Homo sapiens: one gene and its partner. The protein of the gene in region 2 interacts with the protein of the main gene of each other region in a pairwise test. Each region holds a gene or a part of one and is shown on either strand. Other genes may lie near its edges.

Region 1 (3,500 bases), on a different chromosome or scaffold from region 2:
TGAAATATCAGCTTGGGCACTACTAACAGAGGCACAACCAGGTGACACATAGGATTATGGCAGGACTTGAAATCACAATATACCAGAAACTGCTGAAAGATTTGTAGGCATTTAGACTAGGGAAGAGATGACTTCATGGGACAGGAGGGCATGATTTAAATATTTTCAGGACTGTCAGATGGTTGAAGTCAGATTTGTTTTCCATGATCTCTATGTATTTCTGTGGAAATAACGTTCTGCCATAGAATTAGGCATAAATAGATAGTAAGCAAGACAGAATAATACACATCTCCTTCCAATCCTGTGAGCTGGAGGGGGTTCAGTAGATTTTGAGTAACGGTACAAATAAACTAAATTTTGGTTGGGTGATATAAATGCCTCTTCTTTTGCAACACAAATAGAATTTGCAAATCTTGTCAGGCACAGTGGCTCATGCCTATAATCCTAGTGACTAAGGAGGCTGAGGTGGGGGGGGATTGTTTGAGGCCAGGATTGTTTGAGGAGTTCAAGACCAGCCTGGGCAACACAGCAAGACATTGTCTCTATAAAATAAAAAAAAATTCAGCCAGACGTGGTGGTGCACACCTGCAGTCCCAGCTACTTGGGAGGCTGTGGTGGGAGGATCGCTTGAGCCCAGGAGTTCAAGGTTGCAGTGAGTTATGGTTGCACCACTGCACTCCAGCCTGGGTGACAGAGCAAGACTTCAGTATCCAAAAAAATAAAAACAGAATTTGCAGATCTGGAAGACAGATTCAGAATAAGGCACTTTATTTATTTATTAATTTTAAATAAAGACAAGGTCTCACTATGTTGCCCAGGCTGGTTCTGGAACTCCTGAGCTCAAGCAATCCTCTTACCTCGGCCTCCTACAGTGCTAGGATTACAGGAGTGAGCCACTGACCCTGGCCAGAATAAGGCACTTTAACTTTTTTTTTTTTTTTTGAGATGGCGTCTCACTCTTGATGCCCAGGCTGGAGTGCAATGGTGCAATCTTGGCTCACTGCAACCTCTGCCTCACGAGTTCAAGCGATTCTCCTGCCTCAGCCTCCTGAGTAGCTGGGATTACAAGTGCCCACCACAACACTCAGCTAATTTTTTATATTTTTAGTAGAGACAGTGTTTTACCATGTCCGCCAGGCTGCTCCTGAACCCCTGACCTCAGGTAGGTGGATCCACCCACCTCGGCCTCCCAAAGTGCTGGGATTATAGGCGTGAACCACCATGCCAGGCCACCTTTTTTTTTTTTTTTTTGAGACAGAGTCTCACTGTCATCCAGGCTGGAGTGCAGTGGCATGATCGCGGCTCACTGCAACCTTGGCCTCCCGGGTTCAAGCGATTCTCCTGCCTCAGCCTCCTGAATAGCTGGAATGACAGGTGTGTGCCACCATGGCCTGGCTAGTTTTTATATTTTAGTAGAGACGGGGTTTCACCATGTTGGCCAGACTGGTCTTGAACTCCTGACCTCAGGTGATCACCCGCCTTGGCCTCCCAAAGTTCTGGGATTGTAGGTGTGAGCCACCACACCTGGCTGGAATAAGGCACTTTAAAAACAGGCTTTCAGGCTCAGTGAGGTGGCTCACGCCTGTAATCCCAGCACTTTGGGAGGCCAAGACAGGCAGATCACTTGAAGTCAGGAGTTTGAGACCAGCTTGGCTAATATGACAAAACGATGTCTCTACTAAAAATACAAAAATTAGCCAGGAATAGTGGTGGGTGCCTGTAATCCCAGCTACTCCGGAGGCTGAGGTAGGAGAATCGCTTGAACCTGGGAGGTGGAGGTTGCAGTGAACCAACATCGCCCCACTGCACTCCAGCCTGGGCAACCAAGCAAGACTCCGTCTCAAAAAAAAAAAAAAAAAAGAAGCTTCCATGGGGCAGTAATATTTTTAAGACAACTGTAATTATTTTTTAGAAAAAATATACCAACTATTAGAAGGGAATGTTATTATAAGAAATGTTAAGCTTATTTCCTTTTCATTTTCTAAGGTGCCTGGGTTGCTCTGTCTATCCGTATATTTTAATAATACAAAGCTCTTTGTTAGTTACCATAAGAGTAAGGGAAGGCCGGGTGTGGTGGCTCACGCCTGTAATCCCAGCATTCTGGGAGGCTGAGGCGGGCGGATCACAAGGTCAGGAGATCGAGACCATCCTGGCTAACACGGTGAAACCCCGTCTCTACTAAAAATACAAAAAAATTAGCCAGGTGTGGTGGCGGGCGCCTGTAGTCCCAGCTACTTGGGAGGCTGAGGCAGGAGAGTGTTGTGAACCCGGGAGGCAGAGCTTGCAGTGAGTCGAGATCGCATCACTGCACTCCAGCCTGGGCGACAGAGCGAGACTCCGTCTCAAAAACAAAACAAAACAAAAAAAAGAGTAAGGGAAAATACTCACCACTCTCTCCAGAATTACATCATTGGCATCAACTAGTAAATCAAACTTGTCTTCCAGCTCAGTCACTTTACTTCGATCCTTAATGTTGCTGCGACACCCATGGTACTGCATTACTCTGCTCATGCTAAGGAAAGGAAAACCAAGGTTAGCTTGTAGATTTTTATTTCACTTGTTTACATTCTGTGAGAGAGAATGTTCAAATGATGTGGCTCAGACTGTTCCCAACACATCTTTTTTTTTTTTTTTGAGACAGTCTTGCTCTGTTGCCCAGGCTGGAGTTCAGTGGCATGATCTTGGCTCTCTGCAACCTCAACCTCCCGGGTTCAAGCGATTCTCGTGTCTCAGCCTCCTGAGTAGCTGGGATTATAGGCACATGCCAACAGGTCTGGTTAATTTTTGTATTTTTAGTAAAGATGAGGTTTTGCCATGTTGGCCAGGCTGCTCTCGAACTCCTGACCCGAAGTGATCTGCCTGCCTCCGACTCCCGGATTCAAGCGATTCTCATGCCTCAGCCTCCTGAGTAGCTGGGATTATGGGCACACGCCACCAGGTCTGGCTAATTTTTGTATTTTTAGTAAAGATGACGTTTCACCACGTTGGCCAGGCTGGTCTCGAACTCTTGACCTGAAGTGATCCACCTGCCTCGGCCTCCCAAAGTTCTGGGATTACAGGTGTGAGCCATGAGCCCAGCCTTTTTCTTTCTTTCTTTCTTTCTTTTTTTTTTTTTTTTTTTTAAAGAGACAGGGTCTTGCTCTGTTACCCAGGCTGGAATGCAGCAGTACAATCACAGCTCCCTGTAGCCTTGAACTCCTGGGCTCAAGTGATACTCCCACCTCAGCCTCCCAAGTAGCTGTGACTTGGGAGTGGTGCACCACCACTCCCAGCTACTTTAAAAATTTTTTGTAGGGATGGAGTCTCCCTACGTTGCCCAGGCTGGTCTTGAACTCCTGGGCTCAAGCGATCCTTCTGCCTTTGCCTCCCAAAGCACTAGGATTACAGGCATGAGCCGCCATGTCTGGCCCCTGATACTTTTTGATGAAACCAATAAAACTTGCACCCTAGCTGGGCGCAGTGGCTCACACCTGTAATCCTAGCACTTCAGGAGTGGTCAC
Region 2 (3,500 bases):
GATTGTCTTCTGGGTGCTGGGGATGCAGGGGTGAGCAAAGCCAAACCAGAAGACCCTGCCTTCCCGGAGCGCACGTTCTTGCTGGGGGGTCAGATAATAAGGAGTGCATATTCTAGGATGTTAGTAAGCCAGAAGTGTGAGGGGAGACCAAGCCAGGAAGTGACAGGGATGAGTGATGAGAAGGAGGCTGCGATCTCGCTAAGGCTGCCAGGGAGGGCCTTGCCGAGAAAGTAACTTTTGAGGAAAGACCTGAAGGAAGTGAGGGAACAAGCCATGTGGAAACCCGTGAGAACTGTCCAGGCAGAAACAGCAGAGAGTGCAAAGGCCCTGGAGCAGGAGCTTGCCTGGCATGTTTGAGGACCAGCAAGGAGGCTGTGTGGCCACTGGAGAGCGAGCCAGCAGGAGAGTGGCTGGAGCAGAGAGGCACCTGGGCAGGTCTTGTCAGAGTAAGGACTGTGACCTTTACTCAAAGGGAGATGGGATCCCACTGGAGAACTTTCAGCAGAGAAAGTGATCTGACTTATGTTTTTAGAAGATTCCCTGGCTTCTACGACAAGGATAGACTCGGGGGGAAAGGGCAAGAGCAGGCAGCCCAGTTGGCTCTGACAGCAGTGGAGATGGGAGAGGAGGGCAGTGGCAGTGGGGTGGTGGGAGGGGCTGGACTGCAAGTATATTCTGAAGATAGAGCCGCTGGGTTCTTTTGATGGATGTGAGGTCTGAGAGAAGGAGGAGTTAGGATTCACAGCAGGGCTTTTAGCCTGAGCACTTAGAAGTAGGCAGCTGCCTTTCAGTGAGAAGAACAGATTGGGGAGAGCTACCTGGAGCTCAGCCTGGTGTGGGTTAAGGTTGAGGCACCCACTGGATATCCAAGAGGAGGTGCTGATCCAGAGTGCAGAGGCAAGGACCAGGCTGGAGACATAAATTTGGGAATCATCGACATCTAGAGCACATTGAAAGCCATGAGATGGATGAGATCACCAAGTACAGGTAGAGGAGCTGGCCAAAGATGCAGCCTTAGGACGGCAACACTGAGAAGGAACCAGCAAGAGCCACTGAGCAGGGGCCACCCTGTGCAGTGGAGAGACCCAGAAGCCAAGGGAAGACAGTGTATCAAGGAGTAAGCAGCTGCATCAGGTGCTGCTGATGGGTCAAGTAACACGAGGATAGAGAAATGACCATTGGATCTAGCAATGTTGGTCACGGGCATTAATGGAGAAAACCCTTTGGTAGAGTGCTGGAGCCAGCAGTCACATTGGAGTGGGGTCACAAAAGAATAGCAGGGGAGGAATTGGAGCCGGTGAGTGTGGCAGCTCTTTGAGGCAGTTTTGCTATAAAGGGAGCAGAGAAAGGGTTGGTGGGTGGAAGAAGCCGCAGAGTTGAAAGAGGACTATTTTTGATGGAGAAAACACATTTACGTATTTACCGATGGGGATACTCAGGTGAGGATGGGGATACTCAGGTGAGGGTGGGGATGCAGGAGAGTGTAAGCATGCTGGACCATTCCTTCAGTGGGGCAAGAGCTTGGGACCAGATCTAGTGCCCTTGTGCCCGGGAGAGTGGCTGGCCTCCCAGGGTTGTCAAGCTACGGCGTTAAAGTACCAGACTTAAAGAGGTACTCCATCATCTCTTAGTCCCCTTTGTTTGGAAGTTCGTGTCTTGGGAGAAGACAGCTGAGAAAACAGCCCTCCCAACTGCCTGCTGAAGGTAAGGGGAGGAGCCGCAGCAGCTTGGCTCTGCTCTGAATCCAGCCGTCTGTGTCACTGTCCTCACAGGGTCTGGAGGAGGGGATCTCACAGATCACATCCAAGAGCCAAGATGTGCGGCAAGCACTGGTGTGGAACTTCCCCATTGATGTCACCTTTAAAAGCACCAACCCCTACGGCTGTGAGTCTGCAGGGGCCCTGTGGGGTAGGGTGGCAGAGCTTTCACACAGCACCCCCAAGACAGCCTCTGCCTCATCCAGCCCATGACTGTTCACATTCAGATTGTCACCTGGGCTCTTGAAGCAGCCCTCAACGTTCTCTCTCGCCATCTGTCCCTTTCCCTCCTCTTCTTCCTCATCCCCACTCACCCCCTTCATCTGCTACAGGCTGTGCAGCTGGCCTTCTGGAAGTTCAGAGTGCATCAGGGCTAGTGGCCACGCCTGTAAAAGGCAGGCTCCCCACCCTGGCATGCAGGACTGTGGCTGTTTGGCCTGGAGGCCTGACTCTGTGCCTGCTGACTTCCCATGGCGTGTTGTGTTCCGGCTAGACCCTGGCACTTTCTCCTCCTGTGCTAGTCCCTCAACTTTCTTCATCTGAGCTTTATTCATGCCGATCCATCTGTCTGGATACCATTCCCACGTCCTATGTCTAACCTCTTTCCCAAGGGCTTCCTGGCTGGCATTGCTTACTTTCTACCTTGGCTGGTGGTTATTAACCATTCTGATTGTTCACTTGCACTTCATAAGTGCCTACTGTGCACAAAGCCTGGGCTTAGTCTCCATGGGGACTATGAATACTTTCACTGTGTGGACTTATCCGAGCTTCCCAATCATACCTGCTGGAGAGATTTCTCTCCATTTCTTTTCCCATATAAGGAAACTGACACTCAAAATTGACATCATTTGCCTTCTGCTTTACATCTAGTGACCAAGTGTGGATTTTAATTCAGGCCCATCTGATTTCACAATCTAGGCCTTTCTACTGCACGTGGCCTGGGCCTAGGCTTACCACGGTGTGGAGGGTCTGGAGCAGAAAATGCTTGGTGGTCCTCCTGAGCAGGGAATTCCATCCTGCTGTCATCATCCATGAGTAGGAAGTTTCAATAGACTTCCTGGAACAGTGCAATAGGTACTGTAGGTACTGGACGAACCTCCTCCTGCCGAGGACAGGTAGGAGAGGTAAATGTAATACACAAAAGCAAAAACAAAAAGCAACTACCTCAGAGGCATCAGAGAGCTAGCAAAGTAGAAGAGATTTACCAGGCAAGATCCAGGAGAACAGAAATCCAGAGAGGTTACCCCAATCCCATCTCCTCTGGGAGTGTTTGCTGATTTCAATAGAGGTGATTGAGAGACTGATCAAGACTTTTGACAGCCTCTCTGGGTCCAGGACACAAAAAAACTGATGTTCAGAGCCTTCCAAGGGGTTGGGAGGAGGGCCTCAGGTAAATCTCACCAACTGGGTTAAGACCTCAAAGAGCTGCCCTAGGAATAAGGGAGAGATGGAAGCAGAGCAGCCTCACAGGGATTTCAGCTCAGCCCCTGATGATTTCAACCTCCTGATTCTTCTATTCAGCTCCAAGATTGTTACACCAAGGCACCTGACAAAAACAAATTAGAAACCTCTTTGGGCTGGGCATGGTGGCTCATGCCTGTAATTCCAGCACTTTGGGAGGCTGAGGCAGGCAGATCGCCTGAGCTCAGGAGTTTAAGACCAGCCTGGGCAATATGGCAAAAATCTCTCTCTACTAAAAATACGAAAATTAGCTTGGCATGGGGGTGGGCGCCTGTAATCTTA

Evidence for each region. The genes of interacting proteins can lie anywhere in the genome.
Region 1: the proteins of B9D1 (region 2) and EXOSC10 interact in a two-hybrid assay, tested with the Homo sapiens proteins (one large-scale study listed by BioGRID and IntAct).

Annotation. Positions count from the first base shown.
Region 1 is NC_000001.11:11,093,370-11,096,869, forward strand, and holds part of EXOSC10 (exosome complex component 10), read right to left. Parts: intron 2,513-3,500; coding exon 2,389-2,512; intron 1-2,388. UniProt on the Homo sapiens protein: Catalytic component of the RNA exosome complex which has 3'->5' exoribonuclease activity and participates in a multitude of cellular RNA processing and degradation events.
Region 2 is NC_000017.11:19,356,224-19,359,723, reverse strand, and holds part of B9D1 (B9 domain-containing protein 1), read left to right. Parts: intron 1-1,772; coding exon 1,773-1,884; intron 1,885-3,500. UniProt on the Homo sapiens protein: Component of the tectonic-like complex, a complex localized at the transition zone of primary cilia and acting as a barrier that prevents diffusion of transmembrane proteins between the cilia and plasma membranes.